Regions from separate parts of the Homo sapiens genome. Here region 1 is linked to region 2. Evidence: fine-mapped expression QTL. Tissue or cell type: thyroid. Region 2 holds a variant in brackets; the other region holds the start of a gene. All regions are shown on one strand. Distances are between the middles of the regions.

Evidence for each region. PIP is the estimated chance that this variant, and not a neighbour inherited with it, causes the effect.
Region 1: it holds the start of GNAQ, and the variant in region 2 is fine-mapped to the expression of GNAQ in thyroid (GTEx, PIP above 0.99).

Annotation. Positions count from the first base shown.
Region 1 is chr9:78,027,746-78,035,842 of GRCh38, reverse strand. GNAQ (G protein subunit alpha q) reads left to right here and starts at 4,032. Exons shown (of 7, transcript NM_002072.5): 1 at 4,032-4,743. The coding sequence starts at 4,608. RefSeq lists an enhancer at 3,949-4,843.
Region 2 is chr9:77,851,726-77,859,833 of GRCh38, reverse strand. All of the region lies in intron 2 of GNAQ (G protein subunit alpha q), which reads left to right. Among named protein-coding and RNA genes, the nearest start is that of GNAQ, 180 kb to the left of the region's middle. RefSeq lists a silencer at 3,515-3,715. The variant A/G (reference allele first, on the strand shown) is at 3,332.

The DNA of each region.
Region 1 (8,097 bases), 180 kb before region 2:
TGGAATCAGAGTATTACCCGGGTACGTTTTTTGAGCTTGGTAAAGGAAAGATGTCACTGAGGTACTATGCTTCATTTAGATTCTAGAATATCTGCTATATGATTTGTAATGTGGGTATTTTCTCTTTTAGAAGATGTGCTTCGTGCCTAGTTTTTCATCTTCAACATGTTGGCCCTGCTCTTCTTTCAACAGGACAGTTCCAATTAAGAATCTCAGTTTTTCTGCTGTTATAAGAATGTTCCTGTAGGTGGCGCCATTTGCAGCTCTCAGCGTCTCACTAGGTCGGCTTCTTTTTCTTCCCCACGAGCAAGTCCACTTTATTACTTGGCCAGACATCTCTTTCCCAGCTCTTGTAGGATCTGCGATGCTCTTCAGGCTGATTTCTAAAAGGTCTTCTGGGTGACCAGCGTGTGCTTCCTCATACTCTGGGTTAATTTGAATGGCAGCTTAGGGAACTGCTTCTCTTGAACTTTGTTAGCAATCCATTTTCCATACTGTATGTTAGCAACGAGTGTTTCTCATTTTGTATTGTTTATTCTTTGAAACACATGGCCTGTCTCACCAAATAGATTATGAAGCCTTTAAGGGCTTTGTATGCCTCAGGCATCTGGCATAATACACTGCCTGGGACAGGCAGTCTGTAAGTGTGTGTTTGTTGATGATGTAGGTGGTAGCATTCTTTTGTTTATTCATTATTTACTGAGTAGCTGTTCTAGGCTAGGCTCTCTTTCTGGTGCCTTGAAAACAGTTATGAAAAACATGGTCCCCGCTCTCAAGAAGCTCCTAATTCAGAGGGGAAGGGGGCAGAGAGAAAGAGAACACAGAGAATGACAGTAGTATGGTGCATATGAAGCAGCCATGCTAAGTGACTGGGAATAAGAGAGGTACTGTATATTGCCTGTGTCTGATGACCTCTATGGGCCTTTCCTTCCCCAGGAGATCCTTTTAGAAGAGCATGGCCTTTTCATTCTTTGACTGCAGAACCACTCCTTAAGACTAAACTATGCCTTTTACTGTTTTTCTTTGCCAGTCCCCAAAGGACAGGGTGATATGATTGTGGGGTTGGAGATCCATCTCAGGATACCATAGAAAAGGTGACAGTCTTCCTATTTTTCTCTGAAGTTCAATTTTCCTTGGGTATTGCAATTTGCTTTTCAGCTCATTAGTAATTGTCCTTGAATTCTCAAAATGGTTTATCATCTTACTCTCTGTGTGGGGTGACTTGGAATTGCTCATTTACTTTGAGGTGATGTAGGTACCTATTTATTGAAAACCTTTTCATTCTTTAACATGCATGTCAATGCCCCTTTTCCTGCCGTATCTTTTCCAGTTCTCCCCTTCCTTTTTATACCTTTATGTTGTTACTTCCACCCCAAATTTTATACAAATTGATTTTAGTCTTGTATTATAGCTGCTTAGAGCCTCATTATAAGACTATAAGCCTATGGAGGGTAAGGACTGTATTTTATTCATTTTAGTATCTCTCTTATCCTGTACCTTCACCTGTTATTTACACATAGTAGGCAATGAATAAATGCTTGTTGACTGAATGAACTGGGATTTTGTAACATAATCCCTGTTTAGTTGCATGTTTTAGAGTATGTGCTTGTAGAACATGGTCAACTATCAGTTGTTTCTGCATGGGTTCTATTTGTTTGACTTAGTCTCTAGGAATATTTGCTTGGCAAACGCTCTCCAGATAATATGAAAAGGTTTTTGGATAGATCTGGGCTCAGACTTGGAATTTCTTTTCCTGTTTCCTTCTTGACACCCATATATGGCTTTATCACTGTAGAGTGTTGGTTTTTCTTACTTCCTGGTTTCTCCCCAATACTTGAAACATTCTCCTATTGATTCATTGCATCCATTTAAGTATCTAAGTTGCCAGGGAGTGTTCATGATGTTGGGGGGATACAGGGGGGACAAAACAGACTCTGACTCTATAGCCCGCTGAAACAGATGAATTCATCAAATAATAGGACAATTCAGTCAAAACATATTACCTGATAGCCTGATGGCTCATTTTAAAAGACATTTTTAAAAGTCTCAGAGGATCCCTGGGTAGGTAACCAGAGACTTCAAGCTTTCTGTCATTTGGTTTTCCAGTGTTCTGTGTCTCTCCAAAGCTCATATACATACATATATTCGGAGGATGCAAACTTAAAATTTTTTCTTCTGAAGCCACTTTCTATTTTTGCATACTGAATTTCAATCTTTAATTTCTTTAGTCACTTGATTTTAAATTTTAATTTCATAGCAAGTCTAGCTGTTCTCTGTAGGCATTCACATAAAAGGGTTGAGGTTTGCCCTCTCTGCTCTCCAGGGCAAGGTGAAATTTAATTATTTTCTAGGTTTTAAACAGAGAACCTAAAATATATATTTTATATCTTGACTTGCTTGATTTAAATCGTGGTTTAGAGTGTGTGTATGTGTGTGAAACGGTGGAGTAATGGCAAATGAAAGAAAGAAGGAAGTTACACACCTGTTGTCTAAGAACCCTATATGAGTTCTTGATCTGTAGCAAAAGCAGAGTCATGACCGTACCTTACACTCTGGATCAGCAGGTTGCACCAGGGACACTTCAGAGAACACATGAAACGTGAAAAAGCGGTTCTCTTCATAAAAGACAATTTTCTTTGAAGACCTCAGGTTCCTTTAAGGCAGGAAGCAATATGAGTTTCATCTCCTGGGCCTGATTAAACAAGATTATTTTCGTGTGCTATTTATCAGTAGACGATCACAATGAAATGTGCATACGACAGTTTACTGCCTCAATCACATATTGCAAATCAAAAAAACTAGAATGCCGTTTTGCTGGGGCCTCCTTAGTTTCTCTTCTATTTCATTCTTTCCTTTCCTTTTATTCCACATTATTTTACATTTTCCCATAAGTCATCCATAATTCAATCTCAGTCTAGAAGAGTAAATTCGATTACTCGGCGGCTAAACATCGTGTGCCTTCTCAGAAACAAGAGAACTTGTAAAACAAAAACAAAAACAACTTAAAAAAACAAAAACAACCAACAACCACCAAAAAAACAAAGGCATGAAAAGTTGGAACCTATCGGGAGGCTCTTGGAAACTTGGGCAGCTTCCTTTCTCTGTTCAGGATTTAGATTTCTATCTCACGTTACTTTGCGAACAGCTTCGCCTGTGAATCTCCCCCTACACCTCTGGGCACCGGTGCCAATTCCTTCCCTTCCCTTCCCCAGTAGCCCCACACAGTATAGAGGAGCTTATTTTCTAAGACTGCACCGGTGTCAGAGGTGACGTGAGAGTTTCTAACCGAATGGCGTTTTAGAAATAGGAACGGGAAACACAGAAACGGCTGAGGAGCGACCCCGTGGAGCAGACAGGCACAGCCCGGGAGCGGCGGACGCCAGCGCCGGCGCCGCAGGGAGCGCGTGCGGGGCTCCGCGGGGCCGCCTCCCGCGACTTCAGCAGGGGCCGCGGCCGCGCTCCCGGGCCGGTGGGCTGAGGCAGGCAGAGGCCGCCATATTCCTGTCTCACCACGCCCGGCCGGACGGCAGCCGCAGGTCGGCTGCGGCCCTGGCACGCAACGGCGGCCGCCGGCTCGGGCTGCGCGTCGGCGGCCGGGTCTGGCCCCGACTTCGGCCGGGGGCGGCCGTGACTGCTGCGCCCGCGGACTCTGCCGAGGGTGCGGGAGCAGTAGGCGTCCGCAGAGCCCGCGGGGGCCGGCCCAGCCCGGGAGCCGCGCGGGCGAGGCGAGAGCCGCACTGGGAGGCGCGCCGCGGCGGCCGCGAGCCCAGGAAAGCCTTCCAGGAGGGGCCGGGCGGCACCGCCTCCCGGCTCCCTCCTCCCGCGCCCATCCCCTCCGCCTCTTCCTCCTCCTCCTTTCGCCGCCGCCTCCTCCCTCCCGGATCTGTGCTCCAGTTCAGAGAAAGAAGAAAATGTGTGTGTGTGGCGAGGGGGAGGGCTCGCACTGAGCAGCCGCTCCGCGCCTGGCAATCGGGGCAGGGGGTGGGCGTCTGGCGGGGGCGGGGGCGGAGGCGGAGGCGGAGGAGCGCGCGGTTGCCGGGCGGGACGGGAACCGGGTCTGCGCGCGAGCCGGGCGGTGGGCGCGGACAGGGCCGAGGGCGCCCGGGAGCCGTGTCAGGCGGCGGCGAGGAGCGGGCGCGCCGGGCGCGGGGAGCCGTCGGCGGCCGCTCGCTGCGGGGACACCCCGGTGAATGAGCTCTCGCCGCCAGGCGCACGGCGTAGGGGAGCCTCGCAGGCGGCGGCGGCGGCGGCGGCTCGGGGGGCGAGGCGGGCCGCCTGTTCCCGGGGAAGGAGGCGCGGGCGTCTGAGCGAGGCCGGGCGCGGCGGCCTTCTCTCACGCGCCCCCCGAGCCAGCGCCCGCCTCCCGCGCCCGCCTCTCTTCTCCCGTCGGCCCAGACTATCCGCTCCCACCGCGCCCCCGGCCCACCTGGTGGCCCCGGCCCTGGCCGCCGCCCCCGCGGCGGTTCCCGGAGCTCGTCCCGGACGCGCGCCCGGGCGGCGGGGGCTCGGCGGCCACCGCTGCCTCGGGGGAGCGAGGGCGGGAGGGTGTGTGTGCGCGCTGTGAGCAGGGGGTGCCGGCGGGGCTGCAGCGGAGGCACTTTGGAAGAATGACTCTGGAGTCCATCATGGCGTGCTGCCTGAGCGAGGAGGCCAAGGAAGCCCGGCGGATCAACGACGAGATCGAGCGGCAGCTCCGCAGGGACAAGCGGGACGCCCGCCGGGAGCTCAAGCTGCTGCTGCTCGGTGAGTACCGTCCGGGGCCCCGCCGGGCCTCTGCGCCCCCAGCCCACCATCCTTGGCCCTGCGGGGCAGCTGCCTTCGGCGCCCCCGCCCCCCGGCGCCCGCGGTTCGCCCCTACCCTCCCGGGCGCGCCCCCGGCCACTGCCTTCACCCGCGCGGGCGCGCGGGCGCGTTACACACAGACACACACACACACACACACACACACACACACAGCGACACACACACGCAGCACAGGGGTCGGGGCTGCCCTGCCCGGTGCCTTGGCTTGTTCCTTTTCGTGTCCCTGAGGGCTGTACCTTATCTGCTGTGCATCTGCTAAATGGCAGATCACTCCGACCAGAGGCGCGGGGGTGGAAAGGTGGGCAGAGGGGTTGAACTTCCAGTGTCGTGGCCGCGGCACCCCATGGGGTGGTGGCGTGGGGAGCCGTGTGTGTGGCCCAGCGGGTGGCGAGCGGAGCCGGGGCACGTTGGGGGATGGCCTGCGGTGGAGTGGCCGGTGTGCATCCATTATCAGTGCCCTATGGGGTCAGGAGGGAATGGGGGAACGGTGGGCAGACTCGCAGCTGGATTCCCGGAGCACTCATGGTGAGGAAGCCAAGTGGTTGGCCCTCCAAGGAAAGGGTCTGTGTACTGGGGGCGAGGCGGGAGGGCAAGCCCAAATGTGTCACACAAGTGCTGTTCTCTAGCCACCAGACCATCGAAAGGAGGGAGCCTAGAAGAGTTGGCCAGTGGATGGTGACAGGCGTTATTCTCGTCTGCACCATTCCTTCTAGATAAAGATGAGGGTAGGGGAGCGTTGTGCTGTGTGGTTGTTGACAGCGACCGGTATCTTTTGTTTAATGAGGCAACCTAGATGTAGGCCTCAGTTCACAATAGTTACTACCGAAAACCAGTGCAGTCTCTCAGTTACTCTCTTGGCAACAAATAGAAACCTTTTGTTTAAAACAGATAGCATTTTAATGTCTTTGGAATCTGGGCGAGAAGGAAAAACGGGAAGCATACAGGAAAAATTTCCCTCTAGTCTTGAAAAAAAAATTCTGCTTCAACACTAAGTTAGCAAGAAAATGCCATTTCTCAAATAGAAATTTATTGATGATTATCTCTGGGAGGATGTTCAGAATCAAGCGATCAGGGTTCATATACAAGCCACAGTGACAGAACCCTGAGCTACTGTGGCAGGAAGAGCAAACAGCTTTGCAGTAACGGGCCTGAAAAATGTCTGCACTTGTGTTCTGGGTATTTGCATGTATAATAAATGTGTTTCTCAAACATTTCTGTAAGAAAAGAATATTGTACTGTTAGTTGGTGTTTGTGAGAAGCATGCATTTTCTTTCTTATCTTGAGCATTCCATTTGCTGGCTCAAGGAACCAATTGCCTTTGGGAATGAACTGCTTATGTACTGGATCATTTACAAGCAGGAACAAAATATACTGATCACACACATAGTTACTAATAGTTAATTCCCATGACATGCTTTCTTTATGTCTTCATTTTGAAACTCAATTAGATAAATGTGCACATGTTTATAAAAAGCAGAAGGCAAAAGCACTGGATGAAAGAGTTGGGCTTAGGGGAATGAAGCCAGGGAGGAGGCAAACTGCAATTGGAAAGTAAAGATTTTTTTTTTTTTAATTCTCATTTTGAGCTACTTCTAGTGGCTGAAAACAGGCAGTTGAATGTTTTCTGAGTTCTCAAGGTTGAGAAGAAAATAAAGAACAAAAGAAATAAGAGTGTTTTAAGTGTATAATTAAGGGGAAACGCACGTATTTTAGAGAGACTTGTTTTAAGAATTGTGTTTTTTTTTTATTTTATTGCCCTGTTGACAGTCTTTGTTTCTGTTTAATTGTGAACTGGGCAGTTGAGGTCTCTCCAGCCAACCCTATTTGCCTGAAAAGTGACAGCTCTGAGTTTCCCAGCAGCTAAGAGTTAAAGCCCAGGGAGTTTCTCAGTGGGCCTAGGTTTGAATGTCTAAGGGAAATACACTTACATGGATGCTTAATTCCATACTGTGTATTTAAATAACACTGTGCTTTTAAAAATGAACTTGGAGATAATTTTCTGAGAAAAAGTGTAAACCAATTTTACTGCTAAAGTGGTGGTAGTGTGGAGAACTTTTTTTTCCTCTTATTAGCGGAACATCATGCAAGAATTGCTACTGCTTCATGTTCTTGGTATATTGCTTTTGCAACATGAATACTACAATACTTACACTATTTCTGTAGTAATATACGCTAAATGTGGATTTGTGCGTGCGTGTATGTGTATGAGTGTGATTTCAGGAGTTTTTGAATCCAGGACGGTTGATTTCAACAAGGAAGATATTAGGGAGGGATTTCATTTGAGGAATTCCTGATTCGCTGCTTTGATGAGTACACTGAATGTTCTGGTTCCTTCTATCATTTAAACAAACCTATCTAGAGGAGATTATAAGATGTATCCATTCACAGTTTAAAGATCTACTAATATTTTTAACTAGTTTATGGAGGAATAAGTATTTTGAAATGAAAATCAATGTAAAATTGTTTTCAAAGTAAATTTTAGTTCAAGGCTTGATACCATTTTAATGGAAGAGGATTTGTTTGACAGGGATAAAAGTGGGTACCCTTGCATTTGCTCATGTAATTATTTACTTTTGTGTATTAATAATATGGAGACATTTAAAAAGACAATTAGTGGGTACCTGACTAGATGAAAGTATGGCAGTAAAATTTGGGCTATGTTGATTTATATTCGGCAACTATGCCAGTCTTCCAAATTTATTCCGTATGCTTATATATTATATATTTTTATTTTAACTTTAGAAACGTGAACCCTGAAATCTACCACTATAAGAATATTACATTAAATTTTGAATTATTTTCTTGTTGTCTTTTAACTTATTCATTCTTTGAATTCATTTATGTTAGTGTTTGACACTCAAAACTTACTCTTTGTATTCTATGTAGATATACAAGAGCATACTTCATTTTAACTTGGTTAATGTTTTTATATATTTTGTAGGTATAAAGCACATATTTTCTTTAATTGATTAATTTTCATGAATATTCACTAAATATTTCTGTTGGTGGTACATAGATAACCTCATTTAATATAATTTGTAAGTCTGTGTAATACAAGTGGCCTTGAGTGCCTGCTTCATGTTACATATAGTTATCCTGAAATTTTTTTCAGTTCCTAGAAGAAACATTTTTTTCCTGTTAACCTGTTCTTATTTTACACGTTTTTGAAGTCTTTTACTCTTTAGATCTTAATTATCAAATAGGAAGACTTAGTAAACCCCTTTAATTGATTGAATTATCGCTATTGAAACAGGCAAAGTTTAGGCCAGTCTTTTTTTTTTTTTTTTTGAGATG
Region 2 (8,108 bases):
TCAAGCAATTACTCTTCATCCTACATAGCCAGCCTCATATTTTACTGCATTCTGTATGGCTGATGCTAGTCTAAAGGTACTTTAAAATACCATGTTAAAATCTTGGCTTCCATTGAAAAGCTGCTGTTATGCAGTCTGTCCAAATCTATAAACAAATGAACATCCTGAATGGAGCTAATTTTCTTGAGCTTCAGATCTTCTTACAACTCCGGGTCTTATGGTTACCAGGGCTTAGAGTTGGTGTGTTTAAGTTGAAAGGCAACCGTTGTTTCTTTACTTTAAAGCAAAAATTCCAATTTACGCTAATGGAGATAATTCTTTTTAAATCATATTTTCAGGTTTCATACTGATGGCTTACTAAGCTTCATATGCTTTTTACTATACATAGTGTATCCAAACAGATATGTGGATCTAAATGTAGGATTGATTTAATGAAATTATTAAATTTATCATTATTTCACATCTATCTCCTTCTGTAGTTAAAGCAAAACAAATCCATTAAGGGAGTGAATAGGATAATTCTTCTAAATGTACTGTAAGAATATACTTTCATTAGCTCTTCGTTTCTGGGTTTCATTTTGTTATTCATCAGCAGAGTATGAGGTGTTACAATTACGTTATAGAATAGTACTGGAAAGAATAGAGTTCTTGCATTCAAAGGAGACCAGAGAAAATTTCCAGGAGTTAGCATTTAGAGCAGGTATTGGTACTCCCACAGGCGATGTGAAATTGGGGGTGTCAACATGGGAAGATCATTTTAGGTAGGAACAGGCAGGACTCTGCTCCTGTGTTTGATGTGTTAGGCAAAGAAGTAAAAACAGTCCAAGAAGCTGACATTTATAGCTAGTGTGATGGGGCCTAAGTATGGAGATGGAAAGACACGAATGGAAATAGGAAAGTACAGAGGCACCAACGGAAGGAGTGAGTTGAGGTGAGGTGCCTTCAGGCCATTACAAAACTCAAGTGCTTTGAAGAGGGCCTGAGTTAGGGAAGGAAGAGACTTGGCTGTTAGTTGTGTACAGGTGATAGCTGCAGCTCAGAGAATGGCCAAGATGGTCAGTGGGCTAATATGGAGAAGTAGTGGGCTGGGCATGGAATTCTGGCAGATGATTGCACGTGGGATCAGTAAAAGGAAAGAAAGAGCCAAGCAGAGAAAGGAAGCATGGCTGGAGAGGCTGGTGGAGAACTAGGCAGCATTTCCAAGAAGAAGGGGGTGACTGATGGCGTCAGACACTACAGAGGAGGGTGAAGACTGAGAAGAAGCCACACGTAGGCTTTTGGAGACCTCTGAAAGAGTTGTTTCCATGTCCACTGAGAGCAGAAGATTGATTGAGAGAGGGTGATTAAGGGAATAGGGAGAAGTAAAGACAACAACTTACGATCTGGCAGTGAAATGAAGGTAGTAGTGGTCACTCTAAATGGTTGAGGGGGGCTGATTGGGGCAACAGAAAACCCTCCCTTCTTTGATTCACTCATTCCTATGGATTTAGAGCAATGGTCTTCAACTAGGTCAGACTACGTATTGTATTGAAAAGATCTCCCAGGTTATGTGGTCAAAGTCCTGTCTCTGCGTTGGAATCCCAGTGCTGGAGGATAAAGCACAGAACCCACACTGCTGCTGGGTCTGGAGACTCAATCTCATGATTGTGCCAGTGCTGAAAACCATCTCCTGCCCTGAAATCCTAGATACTCCTCATGCCAGGGTTGGGGTGAGCAGAGAGAGCTGCTGTGGAAAGCAGGAAGGGGAGATTGAAAAGCATGGTTTGTAATGGAAATGCTGCAGTAACTTTCCTACTTGGTACTTGCTCTCATCCATGGACGCTTTGTAAATCAGGGACTGGAACAAACAGAGCTGACAGCTCTGTTTAAAAAAGCTTTTGGGGAGTTTGTAAGGAAATAAAAAGAAGCCTGATGCTATGTGAAACATGTGACCTCAATTCAGAACTGGAAAAAAAAAAAAACCTTTATTGCCTTCTCAAAATGTTTTACCTATAAATTGTTTTTTCATTAAGGTAAACAGGAGAAAAGAAAATGGCCTTGAAAAAAAAAAGAGTATAAAAGTCTTCCCTCTTATTATTAACAGGCATTAACATTCAGAGTAGAAATTTAGGTAGACTCTTTCCTCCCTTTCCTGTCTTCCTTTCTCTCCTTCCCCTCCTTCCCTCCTTCCCCTCCTTCCCTCCTTCCCCCCTTTCCGTCCTTCCTTTTCTTCCCCACCTTCCTCTCCTTTCCTTCCCTACCCTTCTCTTTTCTACCCTTCCTTCCTTCCTTCCTTCCCTCCCTCCCTCCCTTCCTTCTTCCCTTCCTTCCTTCTTCCCTTCCTTCTTTCCTGTGTCTCTTCCTCTCTTCCTCTCTTTCCCTTCCTTCCCTTCCTGTTCCCTCCCCATCCTTTTAGATTGGAATACAGTGTGTACTACATATGATCTGGATCCCTGCAAGTTAAACAAAGATCTAGATAAGAAGTGTAATGTTAAAAATGGTATTTCAGGGAGCTGTACACCGCTGATCTTAACAAAGCTAAGAGATGTAGGTCGAGTTCTAGATGCCTGTTGAAAGTGATTGAATTTCACAACAGAGTAATCCATGTTTGGTAAAGAAATGGGCCCGCGGTTGCAAGATGCTAATACCAACGGTGATGAAGAGAATCTGGTCAATTCCATGTTTGGGTTTTTCACCCACTTGAGCCTTGACAGGTTTGAATTTCACTCTGCTGCCTTGCCTAGCATGTCTTGCTGAACCTCTCAGCCTTGCTGTAGTTTTAGAGGTGATGGTGATTAGAATGCTAAGAAAGTCAGCTCACTGTTTTCCTTGAGGAAGAGGAGGGCATGGTGACAGAGGGAATTTGGAAGAGAGTGGGTCCAGATGGCACTAACACCTCTTGGTTTCACAGACTATTTCCACCCTCTTTACAAATTCCCTTTCAGCTAAACAAACAAATATTTAAGAGAACTGCTGGTACCAGGTCATGTTAAATATTTCTCTTACTTATTTCATGATACTGCTTTGCAAGGTTAAACAATGAAAAGTAATAACGGCTTAATACAGCCTAACTCATTTTTCCTGGATGAATCATTAATTTCCTGCTAAACAGATGCATTTAGAAAGTATGCACAGTATATATTATAAAAATAATTTTAAAGTAATTACTTACAAAGAAGTTTCCTTAAATTTGCTAGGTAGTCTTTCTCAGTCTTTTCTCTTCTGCTATAGTCATGTTGAAATTCTGAAGTTCGGGGCAAGGCTTAGTCTCCTTAAGAGGATCTCCATCAGAAAAGAATCACTTAGATGTTACCTGCTGCCAATTGTAAACTATTGTGTATGAAATACTGAT[A/G]TTATTCACTTACTCTAGAAGAAAGTCCTAGTTTCCCCAGTTTATTAAAAAGTTGAGTTAATCCATGTGTAATAGTTAAAAACACATCCACCCCATGCCTTCCTTCCTATAGAAATATATATATATTTTGAAATTTTCCAATTCTTTCTATATACAATACATCAATCATTTGCATATAAAATGTTCATCTCCCCTGCTCTGGGGTATTGCACTTGGCTTTCATAGGAACCAGCTAAGTCTGAAATCACAAGATGGAGAACCTAGATACTTTTCAGTTCCTCCAGAGTTAGAGAATCACTTACAGGGTAAACACACCCATAAATCAGCCTGTACCCCCATCAGTCAGATAATGAAAGTATTTGTGTAGGCCCAAGAATGCCTTTCATTGAAAAGCCAGCACTACCCATGCCAAAATATAAAACACATGTAAATGATGTGTAGATTATTATTCATTCAGCAAATAGTTGGTAAGCAAGATCTATGAGCTGAGCCTAATGTCAGCAGTTTAGCTATAGTCTGTGTTATGTTCCTTATTCTCTTGACTAGAAGGTTTATTGTGTTATGTATATCTATAGATACATATACATTAACCAAAGTGTGTATAAAATATAAGAACTAAATTAAAATATTTTCAATGAAATTATAAAATAACAATAGATGCTCCTGTTAGAGTCACTTTTTTGGTTATATTATAGCCAGTCATGACTTTTATAGCAAATGGCAGAGGGCTTTTTTTTTTGAGAGTTCATTTTATTGCATTTTTATTGGTAGGTAGTGAAACTGACTTTCACTAGGAAATTAAATCTCAGCATCTTTGCCTTGAAATACTTTAATAGATTAACATGAGTGATGGCATTTGTTTTCTTGCTGTGGGTAATCATATTTATTTCTGCATGTTTAATTACGGGGTTTTTATTCCATCATAGACATGGGCTGTGTTTTCATATAAAACAGACCTTATTTCAAAGAGCTCAAAGAGGGCGAAAAAAAGATGACATAATTGGGCTAGTAATATAGATATACCATGCAAAATCAAAGTATAAACCTGCAAAGTCATTTTTTGGGGAACTGCGATTTAAAACACAGCTTATATCTCTAGCCAGGAAGCCACAGGTTCTTTCGTTTGCTTTTATTGATTTTTATTTTTTACAAGGGACTTTAAAAAAAATAACTGCTCGTTGGCCTTTAACTAGGATCTCTGCCTTTCTTTTAATTTATTTATATCCTCTGTAATTACTTTTCCTTTCTTTATCCTAATTTTTCTTGATTCTGCTGCATTACACCAATTTTCATGTCTCCTCTTGTTTCCCTTCTAAATTTTCATTTATGTTTTCAGATAAATTTATTCACTATGATGTCATCTGACCATTCTTGTGATGCAAGGTAGTGCAATTTCTTTAAGGCTTGAAACAAGGGCACACTAGGGCACACTATTGATACTGTCATATGTTGCCACTGACGTCATTTCTGGGGTAAGAGACAGTTGTAACCAGTAAAATATCTGCAGAGCTTTATTAAATATTCTCTTCTCCTACTTTTGAAGTGCCCATTTCCCAGAAAGACTGGTTATTTGTTCTTTGAAAATGTAAGCTTTTTTCAATTAAACTTTTCCATTCCACACGAAACCCTGAACTTCTAGGTGAGCAAATCTTATTGTAATTATCCTCTCTTCATAGAAAAGCAGGATCGATACCATTGTCCTGCATAGCATGCCAACCTATAAATTATACTGTCTGTCCTTTGGTCCCTGTAGATTGCATTAGGTACACTGCTCCAGCAGAGTTTGAACTTTGTGGTTGTGCTGGTTATAGTATATGGAGAGAGGAAATAAGCTTGCCTTGGCCTTAGCTTCTTAAACGGCATTCACACGTTTGTTTATGAATGAGTAGGGCAGACCAGGGCAGAGAAAATAAGGCATTTGTACATCTTGCTGATTTGTTTCTGGCTTCAGGGGCCATTTAAAGAGAAAGAGTAAGCATGAACAGACCAAACCTGAAGCAATTAATGAGCAGATAACTTCCCAAGCATGAGCATCACTGCCACTTAACCTGTGTTTAGTCTTGCCCCATGACAAATCTTTCCTGTTTTCCTTCCTTTTTAACATTTCCTGACAATAGCACATATTTTCAGAATTTTGATTTTGAAATTGATGTGACCTATAATTCCTAAACAGTAAGTAGGGGTATCAGTTGCATTAGGTCAAACCTCAAAGTTGATCAATTCTTATTTCTCATAAGACATTGTTCTTTAGCCATTGTATCTTTAATAGTCTTTTAAACACATTCATCTCTGGGCTAAAAATGCTTTTTAAAAAAACCAAAAAGAGTACTTTTCTAGAAGCAAACTTCATAGTCCTCTATATTATGTACTTATGGATCTTCATGTTAGAGTTATAAAAATATACAGGATGTAAGAGAGGCATGTGACCCATATGAAATAATGGATCTATATTTGGGTTGTAGGATAAAAATCAGAGGTTCTTCCAACTTAGGATCAAAAATAGTTTGAGCCCCTAACTCATTTTTTCCTATAGCAGTGGCTTGTCATCATATCAACAGATTTCAGGAACCTCTGTCCTCTCGCCTGGAGGCACTCCAAAATTCATTTAGGTGGTTTATGTAATAGTGGAACGATTCTTAGAAATGGGACAGGGTGGATATAAGGTAATTGCTTTTTTTTCCTGATGAAATAGTGCCTGTGGGTTTTTTTTTTTTTTTTTTTTTTTTTTGGTAGTAATTTCACAAAGATCCTAAATTGAAATCCGCTGGAATAATAGGACACACAGGAGTAGCCGCTGTTCTCTATTACGTACAGCATGGCTGTATCTGTGACCTGTGGTTGTGCATATTGTAGGTTTATTTTTCACACTGCCAGTTAAGATTTCCCAGAGTTTGACACAAAATCTACAATCACTGAGCCTCTACTGATATATTTGTATTGTCCGGAAGGCTGTCGAGTTCTTAGTCAAGAGAATGGCTTCCATGGTTTTCTTTCATAGTGAATGGTTTTGGAAATAAAATTTTATGCTCATACTTACTGAGGTCAGAATCCTGAAATTTCGTCCAGTGGTATAAATAATAATAATATGTCACAAGGTATATTAACCATTTGCCTTGTACTAGGCCCTGTTACTACTATTTATATACATCATTTCATGTAGCCCTGTAACATCCCTTTGAGATAACTACTCTTATATCCTTATTTTCAGATGAGGAACTAAGAAGTTAAAAATATGCCCAAAGAGCCACATAGTAGCATTAACTCCAGCTCAGAGCTGACTCTTGACAGCTGCCAACAAATTCTCTTTGTTCTTCTGGGTGGAAGACCATGAAACAGGAAAATATTAATAACATGTAGTGTACTGCTTTCTAAAATTTTCTTCCCGTTATCATAGTTTGGTTGGTAACAATTCTTACCCACTTTTATCTGTCTCTTTTCCTTTTCTAAAATACTATCCATTTTTATAGAAAGAGACAAAGGAAAAATGTATGTTCTTTTCTCCATCTGGACGTTCTTGAAGGTTTATGCTGAGAGAACCATTATTCTGTAGTGTGCCTTACCACTGACAGCCTGGGTGTATATTCTTCAGCCTATTTTGTTTGTTTCTCCGCTGGAAAAATGAAGATGAAATCACTGTGCCTTGCTATCAAAGTAGGGATGAAGGAGTAATGTCCTTCATAATTACAGACAGTATAATTATAAATAATAGGCCATGGATATAACTGTAAATATGAAAATGTGAGGTTTCCTCATGAGATACTGAGTGATCTCAGCAGCCTGCAAAAGGTGATATGTGTCAAAGGACATAAAACAGTAGGAGGAGAAAGAGCACTGAGCGATCACGTAGTCCCAAAGTTAGCAGGGATGCTTTCGGGGAGGCATACCTGGAAAGAGGATGTAAATTCACCTTGCTGTGAAGGACTGGAGGAGCCAACCTTTTCAATCCTGTGGCTAGTGGAGGGTCTTGAGTGTGCCTTTGGGGCATGAAAGCCAGGAGGAAGCACACCCTGTTTAGCAGATGTGTGGCTTCAGGGCCTTGGCAGGCAGAACAGGTTGATTATGCATTGCCATGGTTATTCTGCCACTGAACAGTTATACTCCAGCACCCTTCTTCATTGCTCTGCCAAAGCACTTATGCCTTGGAGCTCTGAGTCCAGGCACAGAAGGGACTGTCCTAAGTGAGTGAAGTGGTCAGGACGTCACTGCAGGCACTGAGAATTTATTAAAATGAGGATGAGGCAGAATGGAGAGTTTTATTCTCTGTATTTGTGAGAGCTTTCTTCCGATGCAAGAAGGAAACCCCATCTAGTTTCATGAAAACATGAGCCTTGCCTAACCGACTTGGCTGCAGGCAAACCAACCCTGCCCCTGTGTTTTGAAATTTGGGCTCTTTCCTCTTTCATGTTCTTTTTCATCAAGTGTGAACTCCTGATTCTATGTCAGCAGTTGATCCCCATTACAAATAATCTTCAGCAGAATCTTGTTTTCCATATCCTATTGACTTTGGCACCTGCTCTGTTTACTTAAGCACTCAATTGATAAGAACTGGAATCTTTGCTGATTTTTACCTAAAGCTAGAAAAGAAAACCTTTCAAGCCAGCAAAAATAACCTTCCTCTGAAAAAATACATCAAAGGAGTGGTGCCAGCTCAGTTGGTATTAGGTTGTGCATTGCATGGGTTGGAAACGATGGACTGTAAAGAAAAGGGGTCTTTGCAGCAGGCAGAAGTAAAGCAACAACAATTAAAGTAAACAGAGCAAACTTTCCATGACATGCT